Linked DNA regions of Homo sapiens. The protein of the gene in region 2 interacts with the protein of the main gene of each other region in a biochemical or structural test. Each region holds a gene or a part of one and is shown on either strand. Other genes may lie near its edges. The genes, in order: NMNAT1, PARP1, MACROH2A1 and CTSB.

Evidence for each region.
Region 1: the proteins of PARP1 (region 2) and NMNAT1 form a complex in vitro, tested with the Homo sapiens proteins (one study listed by IntAct).
Region 3: the proteins of PARP1 (region 2) and MACROH2A1 form a complex in vitro, tested with the Homo sapiens proteins (2 studies listed by BioGRID).
Region 4: of the proteins of PARP1 (region 2) and CTSB, one has a biochemical effect on the other in vitro, tested with the Homo sapiens proteins (one study listed by BioGRID).

What each region holds. Positions count from the first base shown.
Region 1 is NC_000001.11:9,981,398-9,985,998, reverse strand, and holds the end of NMNAT1 (nicotinamide/nicotinic acid mononucleotide adenylyltransferase 1), read right to left. Parts: exon of another isoform or gene 4,233-4,601; intron 3,699-4,232; coding exon 3,298-3,698; 3' UTR 864-3,297; coding exon of another isoform or gene 856-863; 3' UTR 501-855; downstream 1-500.
Region 2 is NC_000001.11:226,358,965-226,364,827, forward strand, and holds the end of PARP1 (poly [ADP-ribose] polymerase 1), read right to left. Parts: intron 5,107-5,863; coding exon 4,979-5,106; intron 4,197-4,978; coding exon 4,135-4,196; intron 3,120-4,134; coding exon 3,005-3,119; intron 2,578-3,004; coding exon 2,496-2,577; 3' UTR 1,727-2,495; downstream 1-1,726. UniProt on the Homo sapiens protein: Poly-ADP-ribosyltransferase that mediates poly-ADP-ribosylation of proteins and plays a key role in DNA repair.
Region 3 is NC_000005.10:135,366,690-135,376,649, forward strand, and holds part of MACROH2A1 (core histone macro-H2A.1), read right to left. Parts: intron 3,454-9,960; coding exon 3,347-3,453; intron 2,915-3,346; coding exon 2,717-2,914; intron 1-2,716. UniProt on the Homo sapiens protein: Variant histone H2A which replaces conventional H2A in a subset of nucleosomes where it represses transcription. Nucleosomes wrap and compact DNA into chromatin, limiting DNA accessibility to the cellular machineries which require DNA as a template.
Region 4 is NC_000008.11:11,855,128-11,865,087, reverse strand, and holds part of CTSB (cathepsin B isoform 1 preproprotein), read left to right. Parts: intron 1-604; exon of another isoform or gene 605-712; intron 713-2,609; exon of another isoform or gene 2,610-2,743; intron 2,744-3,608; exon of another isoform or gene 3,609-3,727; intron 3,728-7,147; exon of another isoform or gene 7,148-7,230; intron 7,231-9,960. UniProt on the Homo sapiens protein: Thiol protease which is believed to participate in intracellular degradation and turnover of proteins. Cleaves matrix extracellular phosphoglycoprotein MEPE. Involved in the solubilization of cross-linked TG/thyroglobulin in the thyroid follicle lumen.

The DNA.
Region 1 (4,601 bases), about 220 Mb from region 2:
AGAGAATAATGGGACCAGGCACCACTATGACAGGTCAAAAACCCTATCTGGGCAGAGCGTGATGGCTCACACCTGTAATTCCAGCACTTTGGGAGGCCAAGGTGGGCGGATCATTTGAGGCCAGCTTTGCCATCACGGTGAAACCCTGTCTCTACTGAATATACAAAAATTAGCCAGGCGTGGTAACACACGCCTGTAATCCCAGCTCCTTGGGAGGCTGAAGCAGGAGAATTGCTTGAACCCAGGAGGCAGAGGTTGCAGTGAGCCGAGACTGTGCCACTGCACTCCAGCCTGGGTGACACAGCAAAACTGTCTCAGAAGCAAACACACACACACATACACACACACACAAACACAAAAGTTAATTATGGCCCATATCACCTTCTCCCTCGGATTCCACTGTTCTAGTTCCAAGGAATTGCTAACACTGGGCAAGTTCAGCCTAGTCCTTCCGTGAGGACTGAATACGTCGGACTCATCTCCATCAGACTACCACAAACTGTTGTTGAAAGCTTTATTTGTCCTCACTTAGGGTAAATGAAAAATTTCAAGATTTGGCTACAACTTCATTCTTTGAAAAGTAATATTTTACAGAAAGAGAGATTAGGGGTACTGGCTCTGAAGACAAAGCTTAGATTCAAGCTCAGCTCACCATTTATACCAGTCCCCTGATTTTGCCGTTTCCTTATGATATAAGGCACTCAGGAGCACAAGCCAAGCACACAGTAAGTGTTCAGGAAGTGCTGACATTATGAAGTTCAAACAGCACCACTGGTAAACGAAGTTCAGATTTCAGAGGTGGAGACTGTGTACGCAGCCTCACAGCTGAGTGGATGCCGTGGTGAAATGTTTAGATCATAGGCCTTTGAGAAAAATTATGAGAATGTTAGAGGAATGGGCCTCCGTTGGCACCCAGAAATAAACGTTAAAGGAGGCTATTTCATCATATAACAACTTCTGGACTTCTAGAAAAGTGAAAAGAGAGGCTTGGGTAAGGAAGATGAAAGCCCTCCCACCACCCTGCATGCTGACCTAGGGCATCCTTCCTTCTACTCTGTTGTTAGATCCTCATGATGGCCAAAAAAAAGCATTCTTTAACCTAAACCATCCCCATGGCTCAATCTCTACCCCTTCATCACCAAGGAAAAGCCACTTCTCTTATCTGAAAGGCCTGCTGTTCACATAAGCAAACACTACCACAAAGGCTCTCCATCATCCGAATGAAGATGCCAATCAAGGACTTTTACTGCAGGTTTGTTTGCCACTTTCAAATTACACAATGTAAGGGGTAAAGGGTACAACACATAAAACCCCCAGCATCAAACAAACAGGCCAAACAAAACACCAGCATCACACATTTCCTCTAAATTGACAGTACAAAAGCAAATTATGGAAATGATGCAGGAGGGAATAAACAATGGCATATTTTCTTCACGTCAGTCATTAATATTTATTCCCCTGTGAAATTCATTGTTCTAACTTCCATTATTCAAAGTGGAAGTTCTGTCCTTGAGGACACCCAAAATTATGCTATTACGTGGCAGCATCAACAGCATCCTCGGCGTTGGGAGAAAAAGCCAAGCTTGTTCTCTGTACAAAGCTTGTTCTTTGTACAAAGTTGTTGCTCCATAAATAGTGCAACAATAGGATCAGGCTGGGTGCAGTGGCTCATGCCTGTAATCCCAGCACTTTGGAAGGCCGAGGTGGGCAGATCACCTGAGGTCAGGAGTTCAAGACCAGCCTGTCTAACATGGCGAAACCCCATCTCTACTAAAAATACAAAATTAGCCGGACATGGTAGTGGGTGCCTGTAATCCCAGCTACTCAGCAGGCTGAGGCAGGAGAATTGCTTGAACCCGGGAGGCGGAGGTTGCAGTGAGCGGAGATCGCACCACTGCACTCCAGCCTGGGAGACAGAGTGAGACTCCATCTCAAAAACAAAAAACAATAGGATCATTGTACCCTTACCAGGGCTCCTGCAAGGGTCCCCACATGCCTTGTCCAGTGAGGTCCTGAGGTCAGTAGTCACAGCTGAGCAGGGCACAGGCACTTCTGAGTAGGAAGGCACGATAGTATGAGAGAAGTTTCCAGCATTGGAAACTTTCTGCAGTTTACGTGACACTTCAGATGAACTAGGTGTAGTTTCCCAGAGGAAGTCCAAATTCAGTTCTGATAGCTTCATCTTGCTCTATCATTACTTTTCAGGACTCCTTCAACTCTTAAACTCCAAGAAGCTAAGGAGGAGAAAATGACCCTCATCTGTATGATTTGAGGCTCCAGCCTTTCACTAACTTGGCAGATGGATCCTGAAACCTGCTAGCTGTCAGGCTTTTTTTTTTTTTTGAGATGGAGTCTCGCTCTGTCACCCAGGCTGGAGTGCAATGGCACGATCTTGGCTTACTGCAACCTCTGCCTCCCAGGTTCAAGCGATTCTCCTGCCTCAGCCTCCCAAGTAGCTGGGACTACAGGAGCCCACCACCATGCTCAGCTAATTTTTTGTATTCTTAGTAGAGATGGGGTTTCACCATATTGGCCAGGCTGGTCTTGAACTCTTGACCTCACGTGATCCACCCACTTAGGCCTCCCAAAGTGCTGGGATTACAGGTGTGAGCCACCACACCCGGTCTTTTTTTTTTTTCTCTTTGAGATGGAGTTTTGCTTTTTTGCCCAGGCTGGAGTGCAGTGGCACAACCTTGGCTCACTGGAACCTGTGCCTCCCGGGTTCAAGCGATTCTCCTGCCTCAGCCTCCCAAGTAGCTGGGATTATAGTTATGCGGCACCATGCCTGGCTAATTTTTTGTATTTTTAGTAGAGACTCCATCTCAAAAACAAATAAACAAACAAAAACTTATTTTAGCTTACCATTGATTTTTACTAAATTTTTTTTTTTTTTTGAGACAGAGTCTTGCTCTGTCGCCAGGCTGGAGTGCAATGGTGCAATCTTGGCTCACTGCAACCTCCACCACCTGGGGTCAAGTGATTCTCCTGCCTCAGCCTCCCAAGTAGCTGGGACTACAGGCACGTGCCACCACACACAGCTAATTTTTGTATTTTTAGTAGAGATGGGGTTTCACCATATTGGCCAGGATGGTCTCGATCTCTTGACCCCGTGATCCACCTGCCTCAGCCTCCCAAAGTGCTGGGATTACAGGCGTGAGCCACTGTGCCCAGACGATTTTTACTAAACTTTTAAGCTTTAGTTTAGGCAACAGATCACAACTTCTTTCCCCAGTTATTAACTCCCAGATTGTTTCAGATCCCCAAATGGGAAGTCTGAAATATCATGCTGTAGAATTCCTATGTCTTAGCTTCTGCAGTGTTTCTCTGCAAAGGGGCCAGGATGACCCCAGCATTCCTGTCTTCACTCTCAGAGCTGTACAAATTATGCTTTTCAATGTATTCTTGGACAAGATCTGGTACCAAGTAGCGAATGCTCTGGCCCCTTCTGAGGGCTCTCCGGATTTTTGTGGATGAGATGTCATTAGCGATCCATTCATTCACCACGTGAATGTTGCTCCGGTGTTTCCACAGCACATCCGATTCATAGATAAACTTCTGAGCATCATTTCCAGCCCGAGTAACACATATGAGCCCATAGTTGGCCACGATTTGGGTGATGTCTTCACTCTTCCACAAATTGGGAACAGCAAAGGACTCCAATAAATCTGCCCCACACAGCAGCTTGACCTTTGGCACAGCTGGGAAGAATAAAACAGAGCTTTGGGGTATGCTTTTTCTTCCCCTCTACCTCCTCCAAGTGGAAAGGGGTTTACTTTTCTAATAACCCACTGTATCAAAATGAAGATACGTATGTGCTTTTCAAGGATGAGGGCTTAGGCCGAGTGCGGTGGCTCTAGCCTGTAATCCCAGCACTCTGGGAGGCCGAGGCGGGTAGATCACTTGAGGTCAGGAGTTTGAGACCAGCCTGACCAACATGGTGAAATACCGTTTCTACTAAAAATACAAAATTAGCCGGGTGTGGTGGCGCACGCCTGTAACCCCAGATACTTGAGAGGCTGAGGCAGGAGAATCACTTGAACTCGGGAGGCAGAGGTTGCAGTAAGCCGAGATTGTGCCATCGCACTCCAGCCTGGGCAACAAGAGCAAAACTCTGTCTCAAAAAAAAAAAAAGAATGACAGTTCACAGTTTTTATGAGCTTTTATTTTATGAGAATCAGATTCCCAAAAGAGACCCAGGACACCTCAAAGATTAGAGACCACTGCAGGAGAAATAAGCTCCAAGTGCCTTTTATTCTCCTTCACTTCATGCAACTAACAAGGGGCATTTTCCAGACACCCACAAGTATGCAATATAAAATGAAAATAAAGGCCAGGCATAGTGGCTGACACCTGTAATCCTAACACTTTGGGAGGCCAAGGCAGGAGGACTGCTTGGGGCCAGGAGTTCAAGACCAACCTGGCCAAAATAGTGAGACCCCATCTCTATAAAACAAAAAAAATAAGGCCCAGGCGCTGTGGCTCACGCCTGTAATCCCAGCACTTTGGGAGGCCGAGGTGGGCGGATCATGAGGTCAGGAGATCAAGACCATCCTGGCTAACATGGTGCAACCCCGTCTCTACTAAAAATACAAACAAATTAG
Region 2 (5,863 bases):
AAGACAATGCAGCTTCCAGGCTTTTGGTGTAAACAATTAACACTGAGTACATACTATGCCCGCACCAGGGACAAGGCCACCATTAGATTTCATTCCTAAAAGCAGTACTTGAGGTTTGCCCTAAGGCAAAGTTCTAGGCAAATCATTCTATAGCAGCTTCGCCTTAGAGCTCTGGGACGCTTGAAGGAATGGTTCTTCACCTCTTGTGTAGCAAGAGATAACCACTGATGCAGAATTCATTGGCTAGCACATTGGCTAAAACACTACTGTGTACGCAGCGCATCTTTTATAGATGTATGCATGCACCACTGTGTGCAACAGTGTGCTCTGACATGTGAGCCCAGTACTGCCTTGGGCAACTACTGTTGGCCAAGGGCACTTCCAGGCACAAAGGCGGGAGGAGGGCAGCTCACCAGGAGGGGCAGAGGGCTATACCTCTCTCTTCTCTCATGGAGCACCCCGAGTTTCTATGCAAGGTTGGCTTTAATTTTTTTTTTTTTTTTTGAGACGGAGTCTCGCTGTGTTGCCCAGGCTGGAGTGCAGTGGCGCGATCTCGGCTCACTGCAGGCTCCAACCCCAGGTTCACGGTTGGCTTTAATTTTTAAACGAAATTCTCACATTTTAGTTGCTACCCTGAGATAGGACTTGAATTTTTTTTTTGAGACCGGAGTCTTGCTCTGTTGCCACACATGATCTCAGCTCACTGCAACCTCTGACTCCCGGGTTCAAGCGACTCTCCTGCCTCAGCCTCCTGAGTAGCTGGGATTCCAGGTGAGCGCCACCATGTCTAGCTAATTTTTGTATTTTTAGTAGAGATGAAATTTTACCAGTTGGCGAAGATGGTCTCCATCTCCTGACCTCGTGAACCGCCCGCCTTGGCCTCCCAAAATGTTGGGATTACAGGTGTTAGCCACTGCATCCGGCCAGGACTTGAATTTTTTTAAAGTGAAGGGAGAAAAGCAGAATGTGTATACTAAAACATAAAGTGCTAATTTCTCTCTTTTGAAAGGAAAATAGATTGAGAAATGTGAATCTTCCTTAAAAAAAGAAACCAGTTTTGATTACAGGGAACTCACTAAGTAATCACTCCAACCTAAAAATACTTATTTCATCAGGTACTGTGAGGGTAATTGCCTTTCTCTGTGCTGATTAAAAAAAAAGGTAAAGAGTGCAGAATACTCAGGAGCCCAAGAGCCGAACAGCCTGGATTGCTGGATGATCAGGAGAGAGGGTCTCCAGGTCAAAGGTGCTGGTCTTGAACTCCTGGCCTCAAATGATCCTCCCACCTCGGCCTCCCAAAGCACTGGGATTACAGGTGTGAGCTACTACCTCACTTGTCCCCTTCCGTAAAAGGTCAGAGGTGACATAAGACACTGGCCCTGCTTTCAGGCAATTGAAACGTAAACATTTAAGTATGATTCTCAAATGCAGAGCAGTTGTACAAGGCAATGTGGTGTATGAAAGGCAGTCCTCCAGAGAGCAGGATGAGTTCATCACCACAATGCATCTGATAAGCCGAAAAAAAAAAAAAGTGTCTCCTATGCCTGGTGCTTGGCCCACCCTTAGGTGGGGCATTCCCATTAAGCAATGCTATTTGCTGCCTGGCACGTTCTGGGGTTTCACAGATTAAGGGTAGAAACAATCCCCCCAAAGTCTCTTGGGACCTTGCACTGTGAAGATTAACCATATCTGTAGTCAGAATGAGACCAGACACGCAATACACAAATAGAGAAGGCATCTGCATTTTTAATCGAGTATTACTATTAGCCCTTGGGTAAGTATATTTGTGGTAGAGTTTTAATTTGGAAGACAAAAGTGCCCATAAGAAAGTCAAGAATTTCAAATGCAACTTTTAATACTACATATTTCAAGAGCTCCCATGTTCAGTATTCCTGGAGAAGGAAAGCTCTTTTTGTTTCTAAGTATGAGAAATTGTTAGCGTTCCTTCCTTTGGTCTTCCCACACCCCTCACCACAAGAGGCAAACAAAAAAAACTAAAAAGGGGACAATAAGTGCAAGATAAAAAAGAAAATCTAAATAGTATGAAATTAGTTTTTATTTTTAACTAAAAATAAATGCTTAACATCTTTCCAAAATCAAAACTAAAGACGAACACTTAGAAAAAAGGGTGGAAGTGTATTTTTCCTTCCCTGGGGAAACCAGTAAGGCAGACATTCTAACGAAGCTTGGTTTTTTCCATAGGACTAGTCTATGCAACAGAATCTCTCTCCAGCCTTTTCTCTATGTCAGTTTTATCTACCTGGCAAGAAAAAACAAAAACAACCCCAAAACAACCCCTCCCCACAGACACAACACAAAACAAGGGACTTGAGAAGTTAGAGAAAACCTTTAACACGTTTCTGTAAAATCCTTTCTGAGGTGGTTTAGTACAGGTACTACCCATCAGCAACTTAGCGGCCAGGTGAGTTGGTGCAGAAGCGCTTCGGGTGAATTCATACCAGAGCCACCGGGTGTGACTCGGCTACCTCTCCCAATTACCACAGGGAGGTCTTAAAATTGAATTTCAGTTTCAGCAGATACTTCAGATTTACCTGAGCAATATCATAGACAATGTACCTGAGGGGAAGCTTGTTAAGGAGCCAACAGCCATACAACAGAGGGTATGTACATGTGCCTCATCTCCCCCAGGCTGGCAGGACGCTCAGTGCCAGCCTGAAAGTCACTCTAAGGCCTCTTCATGGGGCTGGGTTGCCTCATCTCCCCGGGGCTGGCAGGATGCTCAATGCCAGCCTGAAAGTTACTCTAAGTCTTCTTCAGGCAGACTGAGGAGAGGAGATCATCCTCTGGAAACTGGGGGAAGGCTCATACCCTGTAAGCCAGGCTATGCACAGGGAGGGACCACAGAAGGGAAACAGTCACCATGGGACACACTACAGGACAGCCTCTAATCCTTGTCTGCCCCAGGTAATCTGACAGCACATAAGTGACTCTGTAGCTCGAGAACATCCCTTTGTGCTCACACAGCATACTCAAGAAAGGATACTCGTTATATAGTAGAGAGGTGTCATTCACACCAGATGAAATCCCGGTCCCAAGAGGAACGTCTACACCATCCAGACTAATGTTAGCTGAAGGATCAGGGGTAGTTTTGCCCAAACCTGAAAAACAGAAGTCACAAGTGACATGAACTGTGAGTACAGATGTGGCAAAGCTTCCAGGGAGATGAGCTCTATTTGATGTTGGGTCCATGTGGTCTTTCTTTTTTTTTTTTTTCCTTTTTGAGATGGAGTCTCACTGTCGCCCAGGCCGGAGTGCAATGGTGTGACTTCAGCTCAGTGCAACCTCCGCCTCCCGGATTCAAGCAATTCTCGTGCCTCAGCCTCCTGAGTAGCTGGGATTACAGGTGCGCGCCACCACACCCAGCTAATTTTCTGTATTTTAGTAGAGACAGGGTTTCACCATGTTGGCCAGGATGGTCTCGAACTCCTGACCTCAGGTGATCCACCACACCCAGCCTCATGTGCTCATTTTAAAGACATGCTCTATCTTTCTTCAGATATAAAACTAAGGCAATAAACCAAAGTTCCCAGGGCATCAACCTTCACTGAGTTTAATGAGAACAGTGGCAGTACCCTCCCTACAGGATCACATTTCGGCTCAATAGAATTTCAAAGCGGCCACTTCAACCAGGCAGTGGAAGGTTCTAAATCATATGCTGCAAATTCTAGCAATCCAAGATGCTCCAGGCACTACTATGTCACGAGAGGTCCCTCACTGCTGTAGCTACAAGTTAGGTTAAAGCCGAAACCCGTGCATCTGGTTACTGGTGCCTGCACCAAGATTCTCCTGTGGCATCTGTGATACCAGCTGCAGCCACAGAGAGTGAACTGTTTTTAAAAATGAACCTCCTGCTATAGAGCTTGCCTATTTTTTTTTTTTTTTTACAAAAATAAATAAAATGAACCTCCAATCATGGTCAGTTGCAGCATATTAACCACCACCACCACCCCCCAAACAACAACAACAACGCACACACACCCCTCGAAAAGATAAAATGAATCTCCAGCTGTTTGACAGCCAGCCACAAGGCAGCCTTCTCAGGACAGCAAGCCCCCGGCTTCTGTGCTGTCCAGGGTGCCTCGGGCTGTAGCAACAGCTTTGGAAACACTTTACCTTTGACACTGTGCTTGCCCTTGGGTAACTTGCTGATATGTGAAGCGTGCTTCAGTTCATACCTATTCAAAAGAGGACAGTCTCAGAAGAGGCCTTCACACTGGGCTCTCGAAACCAACAGTTTGATTAGGAGAATAAGATCAGATACAGAGATGAGATAAAAGTCCACAAAACCCAGACCATCTAAACTGCTCAGGCTCCCTCCTGAGTTTCTGGAACTGTTCCAGAACCTGAAACTGCAGTTGCGGCTGAACATAGTTTGTGCCCAGCGATCACTGCTATGGGGCCATTTTCAAGGCAAGGCCCTATTTGGAGTGGTGGTCAGCAGCTCTAGGTTTCCGTCCACATTCCACAGTCCCCAGACCCCTGGCCTTTTACATGACCTTGTGCTTTTGGTTACAGTTCACAGGACTAGGGTCGATGTCCAAATCAAGCTGGACTAATCAGATCTTTCTCTATGGAGAATCTGGAAGTGGAATTAAAATTCCAGTTCCATTTGGGTTGGTCTAAGAAAACTGAAACACTGGTGAGTGGAGGAGGCGGCCTGGGGGATCATCCTTTGTGCAACTCAATCTCTCTGCTTCCCAGTCCATGGAGAGAAGACACTGCCAGCTCTGGAGGCCTGGCTGCGTTCCTGCCCTTGCATTTCCTGAAGTATCCTTGTATCTCCCTTGTTCCCTTAACTTGAATTGGATTCTGCTACTTATAAGAAAAGAATCCTAATTGGTGCGTCCAGTAACTGCAGTGGGGAATTTCTACTCTCCCAGCCAAGGGGAGTTCTGCCTATAGCCCATTCCACCTGTCCCCATGAAATGCCATCAGTCCCAGAGCCAGGTTTACTCACATGTTTCCAAGGGCAACTTCTCCCAACAGGATTAAGCCTATTGGGTCTCCCTGAGACGTATGGCAGTAGTTGGCACTCTTGGAGACCATGTCAGCGAAATAGATCCCTTTACCAAACATGTAGCCTGTCTGGAAGGTCGGAAAAGGGAGAGCTGAGAATCTTCTGATGGGAAATTAGGAGCAGCTGTTCACTGAGTGCCAACTTGAGCAAGCCACCCAGCTAAGTGCTGCAATCCATCACTTCTAATTCTCACAATGCCCATGGTGAGGAAATACCAAAGTTTTAGCTCACAAGCCAGGCTGTCAGATCCTAGCTCTGCCAGGTGCCAAGGAGCTGCAAGAAGCTACGTAACCTCTCTGGACTCTACTTGCCTCTTTTCTCAAATGGGGAACACAGTCTCATGGAGCTGCCATGAGGACGGAATGAGCTCATCAGTGTTACTTAAACTAGCGCCTGTCAACACCCAAGGAATGCAGGCTGGTATTTTTATTCCCTTTTGTAAATGAAACACGAGGTTCACAAAGGGTAGGCCATTTGCCCGTTATACACTACTGCACAGCCCCAGAGAGAATCATTTAAACTTCTCTCCTCCTCATTCTACAACTGTGAAACAAGAGGCTTAGAAGGTCCTGTCCAGGTGGACCCATCTAGAATCCAGCAGGTGGCATCACGATCCCTCGTGTCTAGGTAAAGCCTTACTCATTCATCGCTACGTTTTCCTGCTGAAGACACTGACACTCAGAGGTGGCCCGGCTGGGAAGTGGTAGAGATAAGCCTGGACTCAGCTTGGCCTGTAGCCACGTGTCTGTTCTTTGCTTGTCAACACACCCGATTAGCATCTGCAGCAGGCCCTGGCCTGGATGCTCTGCCTCCTTTGTTCCAGAA
Region 3 (9,960 bases), on a different chromosome or scaffold from region 2:
TGGGGAGAAGTAGGGTGAGGGACTACAGTGGGAGCAAAATTTTTTTTACTGCATACTCTTTTGTCCAAACTCATACATGTGCCCTACTCAAAAACATTATGTAATATGCATACGGTTACTGAATTGTAAGGCTGGAATGGACCTGATCATTTTATAGATGGAGGTAAATTGAGGCATAGAGAGGGAACAGACTTGCCTGAAGCCACCCAAGTAGAGAGGAGCCCTAGTGTACAGTCAGGCTCTGGACACCCAGCCCCTGGTGCAGTTTGTTGCCTTCTCCAACCATTTCCACTACAGCTGACTCAGCTGTCACAATTGGAGATTTTCAAAACCTCCAAATTATGTAGAATTGTGGGAAAAATTATGATTTGGAATTCAAGTGTTGACACCTGAAAAATACCAACTCTCACTACAAGTGCTTTAGCATGTTACTAAGGCTTTCTCTGCATGTCCCTGGAAAGGTTATTTTCAGAACATTCCACTTAAACCTAGAGATGCAGGCTTTTCTGCTGTTTCTGGGAGCTGACACCACAATTTACATTAAACAAATGTTTTGAAAATTAGCTGTTCACGGTTCCAATTTCAGCTTCCCCCAGGGTTTAATGTTAGCCAAATACTGGTACAGTAAGTAGACAATGTGTTTTATTGTGTGGAAGAAAAACAGACCACCATAACAGGCTTCCTGCTTTTGTAATCAAGGGAAATTTGAGTGGTCGAGTGATTATTGGCATATGGTTATTAGAAACACTAAGTTCCAAATATAGCTACTAGGAGCTAAAGACACCCCCACTCCAAATACTTCAAGTCCAAAAAGTAAGATGAATTCCTAGTGTTTACTAAATTGGAAAGTTCAGAAAGTCATAGAACAAAAACTACTAGGGGAAGACTAGAGTAACAGGAACAAGATTCAGCCCAGGTTTGCCAGCAGACACTGGCATCTGAGAGACCCACTCAAGTATCAACAGTGAACGCATGAAGGAGGGTGATGGCTCAGGACACAGCCAGGGCAAAGGCTAAGCTGAGGACGTGGTCCTGCCCCTGCTGGTCCTCAGCACCAAGGGCCCTGCTCTGTGGGCAGCCAGGTCTCTGGGGCTCATAATCAAAAGATGATAGATTCAGTATCTTCGTTGCCTTTTTAACATTTAGAAAGGGTTGCACAAGCACTTTCCTCCTGCCTTCCCTTCCCCGCCCTCCTCCCAAATGCATATGTTGAAAGGGAAAAAGAAACTTTCCAATCTGCTAATTCTATAGTTAGCAGGAATGAGCAGTGGCGCATTCTGTGAAATCCCTGCCTGGCCTCAAGCCTCTTCCAGGACTTGTGAGCTAGATGGAATGCAAGTGTCTGGAAATAACTTATAGGACACTCCTCAATATTGGGTTTCTCTCTCAAAGAGCTGGGAGTGATTCTGGGCCTAAGGGTGGGTGGCATGTTGGCAAGAGGAATTTAGATTTTGTGCATGCAAAGAAATACAGCCTCTTTCACCTCAACTAAAAGCCACAAACAGTGTGGATGCAAGAAGGTTGGGGTTCACAGAAGATGTCCCTGCATGCGGGTGAAAGCCAGTCTGCCTGAGGCACAGGCAGGCTCAAAGGAGAGGACATGCTGACAGGACAGGAGGAGCTCTGTTCACCTGGTCACAGCTCCTTGAGCCTGTCCTGGGAAGGTGTCCTCACTGTCTCACTCAGGTGAGAGGATTTGGGCTCATGTAGGAAGAACTTCCTGACACTGCATCATTAGATTCCACAGATGCATTTCCAGGACTTCTTATTGAGGGTCTTGCAAAATACAGAGGTCACCTTCTGCCATGGGTAATTTCCTCCTGATCTGGCTGGAGGCCAGAAGGAGGACTCCTTAAGGGGTACCTCAGAGCAGGGCAGCCTCAAGATTCCATTTTCTTAGAGACCAAGATTTGGTGGCACTGTCCATTGTTTGTTGGCTCTGGAGGCTGTGACAACTGCTGACAAGTAGGACTGGGCAAAGAAGGAACAAAGAAAATGTATCCCAGTTGCCTTGTAGTCTCCAGCTCATGCTCAGACAGGTGAGCACAGCAATCACAGGCCTGGACCTCCGGAGGGTGCTCCTCCACACTGAGGATCATGACCTGGAGTCTGCTGGCCTTCTCCACCCAAGATGACATTAGATAACACTAATGAGAGGGTTTCCAGCACCTAGGACCCAGCCAATCCAAGTTAGGCCCAGGAAGAAGCACCTGAGTAATACATCCATTTTCCTCCTTGACAGAGGCAACCATTCTGGAGTGAACTGTCTAGAGCGCCCTGATGGAAGACATGCAGCCATGGCAACATGAGAGTTCTGCAACTGAGCATCAGGGCATGCAGGTAGCTGGCCACAGGACTAGACAGTGGCTGTCCCCTAACACAGGGAAGCCCCCTTCCCACAGGTGTGTGCATCTCCCTGGAAGGGCCAGCTTGGGAGTCCTTCCAGCTTGACACTATCCCTGAAAGCCCACCACCCATCCCCCTTGCCTACAGAGGTTCTGTCCTTCAACTGGGTCCAGACTCTGGGAGGGCCTCCTGACTCTGGCTACTTGTGTTGGACTAGCCCCTCTGGAGAGTAATCAGCTCCTACATGTTCCTCCTTTATTCTCCCATCAGTGGGATGAGCCCACAGGGGGAATGAGGGGGGTGCCCTGGTAACCCTGTTTATCCGTACCCCATCCTATCCCACTTCATACATTCTGGCCAAATCACATACCTTGGATTTCCGGGCCCCTTTCTTGCCTCCTGCTTTTTTAGATACAGGCTTCTTCTGGGATGGAGACTTGGCCTTTTTGGCTGGGGGTGGTGTGATGATGGCTTCCAACTTTCCTTTGGATCCCCGCTTCTTCGCTAGCAACTCGGGGTGGATGTTGGGTAACACACCCCCACTGGCTATGGTGACTCCTTTTAGCAGCTTTCAGGAAAACCAGAATAGCAGATAGTGAGCCAGATACCCTGCTTCTAACCTTCAAGAAGCCAGCCCTGCCCAGGACAGTCTTGCTTTGGGTTGGTGCAGCTCCTTCCTCCATGGCATCCTCCATGAGGATGCTGCCAGGACTCAAGCTCACTGCTCAGGGATCCAGTCCCCAGAGTCCCTCACTCAAATGGAATTTAGATCATCTCTCTCCTTTCGGGAGAGCCAAATACCTTGTATTATCCTGCTTCCCCCAACACTCCCAATAAGGCCTTGGGGAAAAACTGCCATGGGAGGCAGAGAAGCTGCTAATTAATCCAAAAGGCAGTCCACACCTTTCATAACCAGCCAACACCAAAGCCTCTCAGCTATGTTTCTTGGGCAGTATGACCACCTGCTCAAACATCAGTGGGAGATGGGAGAGGCCCATACCTGATTCAGCTCTTCATCATTGGCCACAGCCAGCAGGATGTGCCGGGGTGTGACCCGTCCCTTCTTGTTGTCTCTCGCTGCATTGCCAGCCAGCTCCAGAATCTCCGCTGTGGGGAGCAGAGATGAGTGTATGGTCATGTTAGAGGACCATGTGTCCCCGCCCCGGTCCCCACATTCACAGTGCCAGGAATGGGCAGAGGCAGCTGCTTCAGGAAGCAGCTACCCTGAGGTGAAAAGCTGTGGGCAGAGTCACAGAGGTGCTGAATGGCAAAGCTGAGTGGGACCTAGGAAGCCCCAGGTCCAATGCCCTTGTTTGGGAGATGAAGGAACTGAAGCTGAGGGAGAAGGGACCAGCTGAAGATCACTGAGTGAGTGAGTGGGAGGGCTGAGATCTGAACCCAGTTCCAGCTCTCATTTCCCAGAAAGGGTGCTTGCAGTTAGCACTGCAGATGTCACCAGGGCCAAACCCAAAGTCCTCAGTGTGGTCCCTGAGAGTATACCATGCCTGCTTAGAGTTTCAAGGACAGGATGGCTTGCTATTGAGGAGGCCTGTTAAATCTTTGTTGATTACATCAATGCTGAATGCCTGCACATCTGGATGCAAAACTGGAAGGATGTGACTGGATTCTTTACAAAGTCAACATCACAAATACATTTTTTAAAGTGTGTGTGTGTGGGGGGAGGTTGTTGTAGATTCAAAAGGTGAAAAAGATGTAAAAGCCAAATATAATGTGTCACTCCTTGATGAAATTCTGATTCTTTTAATAAAAGCTAGGAAAGTCATTTTGGAGACAACTGAAGAGCTCTGAATGTGGACTGGGTATCAGACACACGGGATTATTTTCTTAAGTGTAATAATGGTATTGCCATTCTGTAGGGAGCATCCTTGTTCTTAGGAGATACATGCTGATGTATTTAGGGGTGAAGCATCTTGATGCCTACAACTTGCCCTCCATTCTGAAAAAGCTCTAAGGAATAAAGCAAATATGGCAAAATGTTAACAGTTGTTAAATCTAGGTATATGATTATAAGAACATTCCTCTTTCAAGGAAATTCTGTCATTTGCAACAACATGGATAAACCTGGAGGACATTATGCTAAGTGAAATAAGCCAGGCACAGAAGGACAAATATAGCATGAATTCATTTCTATGTGGAATCAGGGACTGGGGGTGGGGTCGGGGCGAATGTTGGTCAAAGGACATAAAGTTTCAGTTAGAAGAAGTTTTAATGATCTATTGTGCAGAATAGTAACTATAGTTAACAATCATGTATATTTAAAAATTGCTAAAATAATAGATTTTAAAAGTTCTTAACACAAGGAAACAAATATGTAAGGTGATGAAATCAGTGTATTCTTGACATTCTGTATGTTTGAAATTTTTCAAAATAAAATGTATGCAAGAAAATAAAAACTAGAAGGGCTATGAGCATAACCCATAGTTAGTACTAAGTTAAGAGCTGATTTACCTGCCATCTGGGCACAGTCTCACAAGACAAGACAGGTTTTCCACAGCACCAAAGATGGTGGGAACTAGGAAGTACCCTTTGGCAAAACCTGGTTTTCTCCTTGGCATTACAGTTCTCTTGGTAACCTGTCAACCTCATCACTGTCTCCTTGTTTTCTTAGTGAGGCATACGGATAGACCCAGAATGGATCTTATATTCTCCACTTCTGCAATTCTGCCCACACTGGGATGTCATTCTAGGCTACCCTTCTGGGCCCAACTCAAATCTGACCTCCTCCCAGTACTAAAGAATTTCTAATATTTAGTTATGTTGTAAACACTAGATTTCTCCAGCAACACCAGCACTCAGAATCATTATGAAATAACTAGGAAGAAAATTCTAGCTGCATAAAAATCGTGTGTTAAAAATTTACGGTATGACACAGGGCATGCATTTTTAAGAGGTACTAACAGCTCCACCCAATGCAAATAACCTGCTGTATGTGTGTAAAGCTGAAAAATTGCTTGGCTACTCAAGGAAACTCTCATATTAGCTTTGGGGGCAGGGGCGGGAGGAGATCAGACACACTTGAAATAGCAGGTTTCCCCCTAAATCCAAGGCAGGAATTCCTTTGCTCAGTAATCACCATACTGATGACACACAACTCTGTGCTTGGCAGGAGGGACCCAAGGCACCAGGAGGCCCCTGTCTTCTCAGTGTTCCCAGGCCTGCAGGGCTACACATGCCAGTGATACAGAGAGTGATAAAGAATGCCACAGGGTCCCTTACCTGGGCTTTATACATGTGAGAGCCACAAAACTAAGGCAGGGTGGAAGGCAAGATAGCCAGTGCTTACATGGAATCTGGTGGAGGGGCTCACATTTCCCACTTTCACCCATCAGTCTCCACAACGCTATTCCCTTCCCTGTACCAGTGTCAGCACAGTTTAGTTTACCAGTGGAGGAGGGAGATGGCCACCCAGCATTTTCACTGAAGCTTCCCTATCATTGATCGTGGTAGTGTCCCAATGCCCAGCAGTGATGGGCCCACCTTGGCCAAGCCAAAAAGGTGCCTGTGATGCCTATGTGACCTTGGGCCCTGGGTACTGTGAATGCAGAAGCGCCTGCCTGGCCAGCCCAGCTTGGCCTTCATTCTCCTGTGTTCATGGGCGGGAGAGCACATCCGTAATGCCACTGTCCTGCCCACGGCCCAAGAGGATGCCAAACCAAGAGTCTAAGCCCAACAAGAACACAGAGCCTGGGAGCAATGGAACATGAAGGAGAGTCAGCCACGATGGGTGCTGGGCAGAATCCTCACGGCAGGAAGGCCTGAGAGGCATATCAAGCACCACTGAGCTGTAGCCCACTTTGCTGGCTTCCCCTCCCTTCCACAACCTTCCCCTTTTGGAGGCCACAACGAAGTTTTGGGCCATCGGTATCTGCAGAGCCAGAATATACAGGAGGAGGCTGATGGATTACAATCTTCTGACCATAATGTGCCAAGAATGCTTTATCTGCCCCCTCATTAACAGAGAGGAAGGGAGGCAGAAGGAGAATGCCCACAGTGGTGACCTGTTTTGCTAAGTCCTAAGCCCAACCCTTTGGCAAGAAAATCGTTTGAAGGTACAGTTTCTCAGGAAAGTGGAGGTGGCCTGTTTCCTCTTCCTGCCCAAAACGTTGGAGGAAGGCCCTCCCTGAGAGAAGGCTCAGTGGCCGTTGGTGGTCGGGGAGGAGGGGAGGGATGTGGTCTATATTTTCTGCAGTGCTGCCTTCACTTTTTTTTTGTGCAGGAAAAATGAGAATGATGGATAAAAAGACCTGAAGAGTGTGGTTGGGCCCCTGACTTGGGTGAGGGCAGGTAGTATGTAAAGAACAGAAAGCAACAGAGTAGCCCAGAAGTAAGCACATCGGGTTGAGAAACCTGAAAATGGATTCTCCAGGAGCTAGAGGACATTATCCCTGGCTTCGCAAGCTTTACCCCTTTATGCTCTTACTTTGTGACTGAAAAGTTCAGTAGCCTCAGTTTCTCCATTAGAGAAACTTGAAGGACCATGCTTATGTTTTGCTATTCAACTGGGAATCAGGGATGCCACACTGGACCAACCTGTAAGTGACAGTGAGTAGCAAGGTGGATAAGGAGGGGCAGAAGGAGGAGCATCTCAGCTCCTTAGAAAGAGCTGGGCAGGGATGTCATTCTGTTGCCTTCTTTACCAAGGAGCCCCAGAATCCAAGACTCTTCCTTTTTGCAAAACCCCAGCTCATCTTTTATCTGCACAAGCCAAAATTACTGCCTCTCCATACTCCTACCACCATAGGGTGGGCCCTCAGCCCTGTGGGTAGGGAGGAGGGAGCTGTGTCAAGTAGGGATAACAAAGAGGGGCACAGATCCACCTTCCAGCTAGTTAAGCAAGAGCTTTATCTTCTGTTTACTCTTGCATTTTTTTCAGATGGATAGTTACCATAGTAACCCCATCGTTAAGGGACACACAAGACAGAGCACCTCAGAAACACACCTTTTATGAGAAGTATATTCAGTGTCCCACCCCTCTCCTGTGCTGCAGCAGCAGAGGGCCGGGGCATTTCACCATGGCCAGGGAAAATGGAGGGTGCCCGACTTAACAAAAGCAGTAACCCAGAATACACACTCATCCCCTGCCAACCATCAGTAATACTCACCCTCTCATCCTTAGTCCAGGTTTAGAAAAAGCCATCGTAAAGGGCTTTCCTGGCTAAGAAAGAGTTGCCTGCTGCAGAGACAGCAGAGGTGCAAAATGCCAGCAACTCAACAAGATGGAACGGTTCCCATCTGCTCTCCAGGGCATGTTCCTATTCAGGGGGGAGCGGAGAGGGTGACTGACTGCTGAGGAATTGGGACAGGGCACACGTCACCAAAGGAGATGTCCTGATGTAGTTTTCTTCCCTGTAAGTGATCCTCTGCTTTGCAATAATATGGAGGGCAAAGTCATGGAGGCCCCAGGCTCAGGGCTGTACAGCAATGCCTGCCTGCCCCCCATGCACACTGGGATGGCCCTCACATTCCCACCAGCAAGGAGGGCTTTCTCCTAGGCTAGAACAGAGCCAACTTAAGCCTCTGCCTCAAAGTGAATGGAGCCGATGCCTTCCTACAAGGGGGAGGGTGGGTTCTTGCACTCAATTCATTTCATGTTTTGGAAGGTTTTGTGAGTCTCTGTTTTGTCTGTGGCTGGTCTAAAAGAAAAGCGATTCTGAGAAAGATAACCAGGAAAACACCAGATCTATGGACACAAAAATCCTTTTCTCCAGAGTTTCCAGAGCTCAGCCCTTGGATTCTCTCTTGAAGGAAATTTTCAGGAGCCACAGCCTGGAGGCTGTAACCAAAATAAATGGAATCCATAAGAAACCACAGGAAGAAACGGAAAAGAACAATTAGGAGAAGAAACAGAACCCCTTACCAGGTTCTCCACCCCATCAAGCCAAGTATTCTCAGTCGGTGACAGTCTAAGTTTTGTTACCAATGACCAATACTAGACTGATTTGGGGCCCAAGGCGCTTAGGGTCTGCTCTGAAGAGGACTGTAAGTGTGGTAAAGTTCCCAATTATAAATGGTGCAAAGGGAACAAGTTGAATGGTGAGCAAACTGGCCAGCTCATTAACTCTTCTAAGATTTTTGTTTTTCAAAACACATAAGCCTCTGGTTCTCACTCCTGGCCAGGGCCAGTCTCTGGCAACTAGTGAGTGGCTGGCACCATCATCTGTAGTGGCCTAGATGATGCAACCATATTCCCTCTCCTCAGAGCTGCAAGCCCTGCAGGGACATCCTGGGCCAAACGTTCCCCAGCTTCATTGAACATGACTGTTTTAAGGCCGCTTGACAAAATTCCCACATCCTTGGATAACAGCATGGTTTGGCAGCCTTTTTGACTACAGACCAGCCGTCTGAACATGAATACCTTTGACAGGTCTACTTTGCAAGTCCACCCAGAGACGAAAGGCTTAGGGTCCTTTTTCTTTTTTCCAAATGTCTTGAACTAAAACATATCTGTTGTATTGAAGCATTTTGTCTATCTTCCTTCAGCAAGATGAAGTCATGGTTTGCAGAATTAGACTCCTAACAGCTAACAGGTGATGTGTTGAGGCTGAGCCAAACTCTAAACACAACCCTTGCAATAGGAAAGAGTCAGGGGCTTTAACGGAGCTGTCTGAAGCTCTGTAAAACAGAGCTCATTTAACAAAAGAAATACTGAAAATAACAACCAGAAATCAAAGAAAAGCAAATGTTCACGTAATCCCAAGGAGAAAACATGTTTGCTACAAGGCCAACAACATGACAAGGAATCTGTTTATTGTATTTCTTTCGATTCATCATCCTTCCATCAGCAGTCCTTTGAGTTCAGAACTGTTTTACACCATCCCAGAAGGCCTTAACCCAATCAACCCCAATCGGAAGGTGACTGCTAAGAGCTTCCTGCATTCTGACCACACCACAACCTCCTCCAATTCCCTTGGTGGCTCTGAGTGTTTGCAGCCGCATCCCAGAATCCATTGCCCCCATCCCACCTTTTCAGGAGGTTGAGTGGCAGGGTCTGAAGCTTGCCCAGCCATCAGCTGGGAGCTCTGGGCCACAGCAAAGCTCTCCATCTGCTTGTCCCAGGGGCCTCAAAGGAACCAGAATTCCATAGAGAAAATAAAACCTACAGCAGTGATTGAAAGTAGTATTCCAAAGATGGTTCCAAGCCTGACACAAACTCCTCTACTGTTGTTAAGCCCACTGCAGACTCCTCCGAAAAGTCCAGGAGGAGCCAGGGGTCTCAGAGACAGCATTTGGTCCAGTCTTCTGCCTTCCCACAAAGTCTCCCAATAAGATGGAAATGCAGCTTAATTTGGGAATCTGTAAAGTAAGTTCCACTGACTGGAACTTTCAGCCCTATTTCAAAGTAAAAAATAAATAAGTTTACATTATACATAATAACACAGGGGAGCTATGATTCTTAGCAAACATTACCTTAATCTAACCCACCAACCCAACTCAGTGCCCGAATATCTTCCTTGTCAGGAAGTTTTCCTCTGCCTTCCTCACCTCTGGTGCTGTTTCAGCTGCCCGCTCTGTCTGCAGGGGAGGGCAGCAATCGCAAATGGCACTGTGGTGAGAGCCCGGGGTCTGCTGACAGACCGTCGGGGTTTGGATCCC
Region 4 (9,960 bases), on a different chromosome or scaffold from region 2:
CAGGCAGCAGTCTCTACGTCTGGTCCCAGGCTGCCTGAGAAAGAGCATGTGGGAGGCAAACCTTGCGCCCTGGCATGGTTGTTAATGTTTATATTTACCCTAGCTTGTGTGGGGTAGGAGGTTTAGGGATCAAATTCCACTCTGTGTTTAGACATTTTTTTCTTTCTTTTTTTTTTTGAGACAGTTTCACTCTGTCACCCAGGCTGGAATGCCGTGGCACAATCTCAGCTCACTGCAACCTCACCTCCCAGGTTCAAGCAATGTTCCTGCCTCAGCCTCCGGAGTAGCTGGGATTAGAGGCATGCACCACCATGCCTGGCTAATTTTTGTATTTTTAGTAGAGACCTCAAATGATCTGCCCGCCTCGCCTCCCAAAGTGTTGGGATTACAGGTGTGAGTCACTGTGCCCAGCCATGTGTTTAGACTTTTAACTAATCTCTTTTTTAGTTTCAAGCCTTATCGTCCGCCTCTGTAGACCACTCCTGTGCCTGTTTCCTGATCCTTCCAAGGGCCATTGTATTCCCTGTCTGCTGCCCCTCTTTTGGATTCTTCTGCACATTTTTTTGTTCATGCATTCATTCATTTATTGTTTGATTAATGACAGGGTCTTGCTTTGTCTCCCAGGCTGGTGTGCAGTGGTGCGACCACGGCTCACGGCAGCCTCAGCCACCCAGATGTAAGCGATCTGGTTCCCACCTCAGCCTCCCGAGTAGTAAGTAGCTGGGACCACAGGCGGTGCCCAGGTTTTTTTTTTTTTTTTTTTTTTTTTCGTTGGTAGAGACAGGGTCTCACTGTTGCCAGGACTGCTCTGAAACTCCTGGTTTCAAGTGATCCCCTTGCCTCCTCCCACTTAGGCCTTCCAAATGCTGGGATTACAAGGCATGAGTCACCTCCAGGCCTTTTTGTACTTTTAAAACTCTGCATCAGTGTATAAACAATGTTATTAAAGTTTATATGACTTCAGTTACACTACATGGATCCTTTTTCACTCACGGTTGTGAGATTTATTTCTGTTGCTACATCCAGTTCTAGTCCATTTGTGTTAAGTGCCCAGTGTGTTTATCTACTGAGGGACAGTTATGTTATTTCGTGTTCACTATTATCCCATGCTACAATAAATATCCTGTGTCTCCCAGATACTTAGAAGAGTTTCTGCAGGGCACATGTGGGAGAGTTTGTTTCTGGGTCATGAGGTGTGTTCATCTTCCATCTTGCTAGATGCTGGCAAAGGGTTCTCCAGTGTGGTTGCATCAATTTACTCGCCCAGCAGTGTGCAGAGTTCCTGTTCCTCACATTTACCAACACTAGATAGTACCAGACTTTGATTTTTGCCAATCTGATGGGTTTGAAGTGGTACCCCTGTTTTAATTTCATGACCAGAAATTCAAATTTAATCTTTGCTGTAGGACAACAGTAACCCACTTATGCCTAGTGTTCCATTATTAGAACGCTAAGCATGTGGGAGTTTTTACATCATACTGCTCAAGGTCATCGCCAAGGTCTGATGTTTTTACTCGTGCAAAAATTTAAAAAATTGCAACCTCTGGCATAAATGGGTTGAGTGACACTTTTCCTGTTTTTATTGTTGGTCAGTGATGGCATATTTGCTGGGTTTTTTTGTTTTTTTTTTGAAACGGAGTCTCACTGTGTCGCCAGGCTGGAGTGCAGTGGTGTAATCTCGGCTCACTGTAACCTCCGCCTCCCGGGTTCAAGTGATTCTCCTGCCTCAGCCCCCTGAGTAGCTGGGATTACAGGCGTGTGCCACCACGCCCAGCTAATTTTTGTATTTTTAGTAGAGACGGGATGTCACTATGTTTGTCGGGCTGGTGTTGAACTCCTGAGCTCATGATCTGCCTGTCTTGGCTTCCCTAAGTGCTGAGATTACAGGCCTGAGCCACCGCTAGCCTATTTATTTTTTATTTTAAATTTTAATTTTCTATATAGAGACGAGGTCACTATCCTGCCCAGGCTGGTCTTAATCTCCTGGGTTCAGTCAATCTTCCCACCTTGGCCTCCCGAAGTGTCAGAATTATAGATGTGAGCCACTGTGCTCAGCCCAGAACTGATGTTTTCTAAATGCTGGGTGCTGAGAAGGATGTGTGGCTGGCAGTCTTGACTGTGTTATCTGTCTTTACCAGGCCAGTAACTTCTTTGGTCTGGTCATCAAGATAATCTAGCATCACCAGCAAGCATGCATGGAGAAGGATGGGCCCAATGTGGCCAAGATGGTAACGGGACCAGTAGAGAGCCCTGTAGAAGACATCTAGATATTCTGCCCTAAGAGCCCGGAGGGCCGGGCTGTCTCATGACCCTCTGACGTGCTGACCTGGACTCTGGCAGAATGTGCACACACACAGTCACACAGCTTCCTGGCTTGCGCAAGTCCCAGGAGGGCGGTGCCAGCCACAGGCTTTTCCCATTCGAGGGTTGGAAGCGTATCATCAAACCACATCAGAGTGCTGGGGGCCACCTGCCACCCATTCCCAACCCACTCAGCCTTCCTGGTGTTTGGGACATGCTTTGCTTTGGCAGTCAAGACAGCAGAACAAATCAACTTTTAAGGCCTTGTCACTGATAGTACAATTTCCATTATTTTTCATCCAAATTAGGATACTTCTGAAAATAGAAATGATGACTCTGGGATGCAAACGTTGGCTGTCCTATGTATAAGGAGATGGCTTTTCACGCTCCCAGTGACTGAGGAAGTTTCTCCCAGATGGCGCTGCTCTGAGCCTGGTGCAGGGTAGGCACTTTCAAAAGAGTGTCTCCTTGTATCTTCCATCAGCCTTGCGAGATGGGTATCTGTTCCCAGGGCCCCAAGGGAGGAAAACAGGACCTAGCTGGATCCAAGAGCTAGGCCTTTCTTTTTTTTTTTTTTTTTGAGATGGAGTCTGACTCTGTCGCCCAGGCTGGAGTGCAGTGGCGTGATCTCGGCTCACTGCAAACTCCGCCTCCCGGGTTCACGCCATTCTCCTGCCTCAGCCTCCCGAGTAGCTGGGACTACAGGCGCCTGCCACCATGCCTGGCTATTTTTTTGTATTTTTAGTAGAAACGGGGTTTCACCGTGTTATCCAGGATGGTCTCGATCTCCTGACCTCGTGATTCGCCCACCTCAGCCTCCCAAAGTACTGGGATTACAGGCGTGAGCCAGCATGCCCGGCCCAGAGCTAGGCCTTTCTGTGGCTGGCCTTCGCGTCAGCCTCAACTACCCTGGTGTAATCTCGCCTGCGGTTGAATTAGGGAACCGCCGTGTTCTGCAAGCTGGAGAGGCAGAACACTAATGAGCAGAACACTAATCTCATTGCAATCTCAAAGGATCTCTAAAAGCTTTTATAAAGCAGGCCCAAGGTCCTTTGGTATCCGATGCAGACGTGGTGAATGCATTGGCTCTGTCAGCATCTGAGCAAGTCAGTAACAGAAATGGGGAGTAAAAGCTTTCAGAACTTTCCAGAATATTGACTAAATTGTCTTGTTTACAACCAACAACGACAACAAAAAATAACTGCTGAGGGCCTTCGTAGTGTCTGCTGTTTCAAGTGTACAGTAGTCATTTTGTCTGCAGGATGTGGGGTTGCTGTGGCTGACCTTGTACAATATTCCACTCATAGGTGTCTTCAGGCCTATGGAGAGCAGCTTGCGTGGGCTGGGCCTGCAGTACCTGGTTTGCATAGATGATTGGCAGGTGGGCAGCACGGGGAAGGACCTGTGAGTGGCCAACCTGGTTCAGGTGAGGGAGGTGGAGTGGGGCTTCTCTGCTTCCCCTGGTTCCCTGGAAGCCTCCAAGGCTGGTGAGCATCACTGCTGCCTCTGCACACCTGTGTGCTGGGTGGGTTTTCTGACAGGTTTTCAGTTGCTTCGGGGCTACAGCTGCAGGGAGCCTGCTCCATGGGACAGATGGGCCTCTGGTGCCCGTTCATCAGGGGACTGATGAGACCGAGGCCTGAGAGCCCTTTGGATTTTGTTTTTGTCCTTAATTTAATCATAAGCCAAGAATCTACTAAACACAGTTCCATTAGGGGCAAAGACGTAACACATCAGAGGCCACAGCAAGGCTGTGATTCATACTCAAAAAGGAAAGGTCTCTGGGTCACAACAGAGCATAGTTGAGGTCAGCACACTCCCACCCAGTGCAGGGCTGCTCCAGCATTGAGGTGTGTCTGGCAGGTTGAAGTAGGGGAAGATGAAACTCGCCGAAGTCTTGTTTTGTGGTTGCACTTAAGTGGTCAAAACTTCAGGAGCAACTGCCGTTATTAGCGGTGAGTGCCAAGACTAGTTTTTATAGAAGAGAAAGAAACAAAGTACTCTGGGAAGGTCTTACTGAGCCTTCACAGTCTCCCCACCTTTCCACTGTTCCCGTGCTCTTAGCCGCTCTGCTGGCCTATAAGGCACAGTCTTCATTTGTGGCTTCTGGCAAAATGTAAGCACTTGACTTTTGTTTTTGTTTTGTTTTGTTTTGTTTTTTTGAGACGGAGTTTCCCTCTTGTTGCCCAAGGTGGAGTGCAATGGTGCGATCTCAGCCCACTGCAGCCTCCACCTCCTGGGTTCAAGCAATTGTCCTGCTTCAGCCTCCCGAGTAGTTGGGATTATAGGTGCACAACCACCACGCCTGGCTAATTTTTTGTATTTTTAGTAGAAATGGGATTTCACCATGTTAGCCAGGCTGGTCTCGAACTCCTGACCTCAGGTGATCCACCTCCTTGGCCTCCCAAAGTGCTGGGATTACAGGTGTGTGCCACTGTGCCCGGCCAACTTTCAATTCTTTAGAGCTGACTATGAGAGGAGCCAGCAGTATAGCCACAGCACCAACGAATGAGGAAGAGCAAAATACTGCATGACAGCTTTGCTAAGAATTCTTTCACTTTTTTTGTCTATCAGCCAGGAGCTAGCAACTTGGCTTATTTGGAAATTTTAAGTGTACATATCCTGTCTCCTTAAATCCTTTACAGATTTAAAGTGCAGTCTACCTGAGGGCTCTGTGACCATGTAAGAAAGCTTTTTCTTTCTTTTTTTTTCTCTGAGACAGAGTGTTGCTCTGTCGCCCAGGCTGGAGTGCAGTGGTGTGATCTTGGCTCACTGCAACCTCTGCCTCCTGGGTTCAAGCAATTTTCCTGCCTCAGCTTCCTGAGTAGCTGGGACTACAGGCAGCACCACCATGCCCGGCTGAGTTTTGTATTTTTAGTAGAGACAGGGTTTCACCATGTTGGCCAGGCTGGTCTTGAACTCCTGACCTCGTGATCCGCCTGCCTCAGCCTCCCAAAGTGCTGGGATTACATGCGTGAGCCATTGTGTCCGGCCTTTTTTTTTTTTTTTTTTTTTTTTTGAGACAGAGTCTCGCTCTGTTGCCCAGGCTGGAGTGCAGTGGTGTGACCTCAGCTTACTGCAACCTCCGCTTCCTGGATTCAAGTGATTCTCCTGCCTCAGCCTCCCAAGTAGGTGGGATTACAGGCACCCACCACCGTGCCTGGCTAATTTTTGTATTTTTAGTAGAGACAGGAGTTTCACCTTGTTTAGTAGAGACAGGCTGGTCTCGAACTCCTGACCTCAGGTGATCCGCCTGCCTTGACCTCCCAAAGCGCTGGGATTACAGGCATGAGCCACTGTGCCTGGCCAGAAAGCCTTCTTTATTGAGCTTGGTGGCAGCCCAAAACTGATTCTTTAAGGGTGTCAGGACTTAACACCTCCTGTGACTTAGCCGCACCTCCTCTCCTTTGACTTTCATTCCACCTCCTTCCAGGATCGCAAGGTCCCTATTTGTCCTGGAAACGGCTTCAAGGTAGTCTAGGGTGCCGTTTGCCGGGGGAGGAAGGTGCTCTGGTTGATAGAGTCGCCTGGCCGCACACTCTTTTTGGCACATAACAACGTTCTACAGAGCCGGGGTGGAGCGTGCTTTCTCATAAGTGCTCTGCAGGTTTGGAGAGAGAGGATATGAGGAGCACCCTTTTCTGTTTTTTTTAACCCAAAGATTAGCTTGGAAAAGGGGCAGAGGGGTGCACTGGAACTCAGGTCTGCCTAAGCAGCACAGCAGACCAAGGTCTAGAGATGACATCTGCTCGCAGCTGTTCTTCCACCAGCCCGCATCCTGGAAAGGGGTCTTGTGGCACACAAGAGTTCACATCCTTCCCTCGTGAAATAAGGACTTTGTGTTCATCATCTCTTGTAAGAAGCAGAGCAGAAAGCACAGAATTAAGAAATAAAAGGGAAGTGGGTGCCTATATAAAGGGAAGTGAAAATGGGTTGCTGTCCCATGCAAAGACCCTGGAAAGCTGTTAACAGCTCAGCTTGTCACTTTCACCATCTGCATTTGTCCAGAGTGATTGAGATTTGCGTTGTTGTGGAGAGAAAGGCGCCTGTTGCACAATGGAGTGAGATTGCCACTGCTGTCAGGACCTCTGTGTTTGGCTTGACACTTTTTGAGTTCTCAGCAGTCTCGGGACCCTCAAGAGTGGAAGCATTTTTGGATGTTAAATGCTGGGGTTAATTGAAGTTAAGAGCTTGTTTTACTGGGCATGGTGGCTCACACCTATAATCCCGACACTTTGGGAGGCCAAGGCGGGCAGATCACTTGAGTCCAGGAGTTTGAGACCAGCCTGGGCAACATAGCAAAACCCCATCTCTACAAAAAATACAAAGCTGGGCGTAGTGGTGTATGCCTGTAGTCCCAGCTCCTTAGGAGGCTGAGGGGAGCAGATCTCTTGAGCCCAGGAGGCAGAGTTTGCAGTGAGCCATGATCGTGCCACTGCACTCCAGCCTGGGCAACAGAGTGAGATCCTGTCTTAAAACAAACAAAAAAAACAAACTTGTTTTCATTTAGACTCTTCCTGGCGTTGGGGACCTATTGGAATAGGTTTAGTGTGAACTGAGAGCTAGAAGTGTTAGAGGAGAGAGGGAGGGAACAGAGCCCGCTGGAGCGAGTGCCCTTCCTACCTTATCACTGCATGCCAGGCATGTGCCGGCGCTTTGGTCCTCCTCATTTCATTCTTGACTGCCACCTGAGACACGATGGTTACTAGCTCCATTTTATAGGTGGTGAAACTGAGGCTTGGGGAAGGTCAGACCCCAAGGGTGCCATTTAGTCAGTGGCAGAGCCAGATCCAAATGCAGGTCTCCTGACTCCAAGTGCAGGGCTCATTTTATCGTCCGGTTGCAGCACGCTGGCGGCCCCTTGAGCCCCAACCTGGATACCATAGGGGAGGAGCAGAGAAGCCAGGAACACCACAGCCCTGGGCCAAGGTGCGGGGCTGAAAGAACTTCCCAGCGCTCAGCCTGGGACTAGTGGAATGGGCTGGGCCCTGGGGCTGGCAGCGGTGGCCCCGGGGAGCCTGGGAATGAGTAGGGAGCACAGGGAGGTGTGGGAGGGCCTGGGAACCATGAAAAGGAGGGCGGGTGCAGGGAAGTCGCCTGCTAGTGAAGTGGCGAGGGGGCCCTGTGGGACTCCAGGGAATGGCCACGGCAGGTTGTCCTCCAGGAGTTGAGAGCCACTGGACATGGCAGCTGCCTGTGTTCTCAGCCACCACAGTAACCAAAGAAATCTTGGTTTTAAAATTCAAGTTGCCATGGAAACGCTCCCATCCTCGACTTGGCTTATTATTTAAAATAACATCTCTACAGCACAAAGCCCCCGGGTACATCCAAGGACACTGCTGTCTGCCCACGAGACATGCTAACCTCACAGTGTGGAGGCTGTGTGGGTCACTGACATGCATGGCCACGTGAGACGCTGCCTACCCACGAGTCACGGAAAAGGGGAAGATTATTAAGAAAGTCACTAGGGGCCAGGTCCAGTGGCTCATGCCTGTAATCCTAGCACTTTGGGAAGCTGAGGCAGTTAGATCCCTTGAAGCCAGGAGTTCAAGACCAGCCTGGCCAACATAACGAAACACGGACTATACTACAAAAATTAGCCAAACGTGGTAGCACAGGCCTGTAATCCCAGCTACTCAGGAGGCTGAGGCACAAGAATCACTTGAACCTGGGAGGTAGAGGTTTCAGTGAGCCAAGATTGCGCCACTGTACTCCAGCATGTGCCACAGAGCGAGACTCCCATCTCAAAGTCACTAGGGAGGAAGCCTCATTGGTGGGAAGGAAGACCAAATTGGAAATGCTCTGAGGAATCATTAAAACAAATGTCCTTTTATCAGTTTGGTGGCTCAGGGCCTTTAGTAATACTGCCAACTATTTTTCCTAGAAGAAACAAAACTGAAATAATAGGAACATACTCACTTTTTTTTTTTTCTTAAAAGTAAGGGTATGTTGTGAAAAAAAGTCTCCCCACCGTAGTGACCGACTGCCGTGCATCTTCCTTGGCATTTTGCATGTAGTGGCAGGAGTGTTCCTACATGTGTAGATTGCTGAGAGGGTCAGATGCTTATGGTCCTCAGTCACCCACAGCTTGCTTTTTCCCCACTTAACATTGGGACTTGGGGCATTTTTACTCTGTTAATACAATAGAATTCACTTCAACTAGTTGGTTTTTTACTTTTATTTTATTATTATTATTTTTAGATGAAGTCTCAATCTGTCGTCCAGGCTGGAGTGCAGCCTCTGCCTCCTGGGTTCAAGTGATTCTACTGCCTCAGCCTCCCAAGTAGCTGGGATTACAGGCATGCGCCACCACGCCTGGCTAATTTTTTGTATTTAGTAGATACAGGGTTTCACCACCTTAGTCAGGCTGGTCTCTAACTCCTGACCTCAGGTGATCCAACCGCCTCGGCTACAGGCATGCGCCACCGTGCCCCACCAACTAATTGCTTTTTTAATGGTTGCTTCATATTCTATTTAACCACTTACCGTAATTTAACAGTTACTCTGTTATTGGATACTTGATTCATTTCCAGGACATGCAGATTTAGAAACTGGTGGGCGTTGCTGGTTGATGTCTCGGTGGTTGTGCCCACCCACCCCAGGCACTCATTATCATGCCTTCCGTTTCCCCACTTCCTAAGCCCTGCAAGAAGTGCCAAACTGTCCAGCCCTTGCCAATCTGATACATGCTGAATACCTCCTTGATTTTATCTGCACCTCCCTGAGGTTGAACTTATTTTACTTTATTTTATTTTATTTTTGAGGCAGAGTCTCACTGTCACCCAGGCAGGAATGCAGTGGTGAAATCTTGGCTCACTGCAATCTCCACCTCCTGGGTTCAAGTGAGTTGAAGCAATTCTCCTGTCTCAGCCTCCCAAGTAGCTGCGATTACAGGCACCTGCCACCACACCTGGGTAATTTTTGTATTTTTAGTGGAGACGGGGTTTCACCATGTTGGCCAGGCTGGTCTCAAACTCCTGACCTCAGGCGATCCACCTGCCTCAGCCTCCCAAAGTGCTGAGATTACAAGCTTGAGCCACCATGCCGGTTGAACTTATTTTTATCTGTGTTGGCCATTTGTAGTTTTTCTATTATGCTGGTTCCATTTTTCTGACTTTGAAGAGCCTTTTGTGGAAACGAAGCCTAAAGTATATGTGAGTACTGCTTTGTTTCGTCAGTTTTTGTTTTAAAGAGACTTTTCAGTGTAATGCAAGCATTTTCCCTTGAAGGCTGTGTTTCCTGTCAATCCTAAGCTTTCCTCCAGCATTACCTTTTTAAAAAACTTTATTTTCTATATTGATGGGGTCTCACAATGTTGTCCAGGCTGGTGTTGAACACCTGGCCTCAAGTGATCCACTTGCCTTGGCCTCCCAAAGTACTGGGATTATAGGCATCAGCCACCGCACCCAGCCTGTTTTTCAAAGGGCATTGATTTTTTTCATAAAACTTTTTAAATTAAGATCTGTGGGCCTGGTGCGGTGCCTCACGCCTGTCATCGCAGCACTTTGGGAGGCTGAGTCAGGTGGATCACGAGGTCAGGCGTTCGAGACCAGCCTGGCCAAAATGGTGAAACCCTGTCTTTACTAAAAATATGAAAATTAGCTGGGCATGATGGCACATGCCTGTAATCCCGCTGCTCGGGAAGCTGAGGTAGGAGAA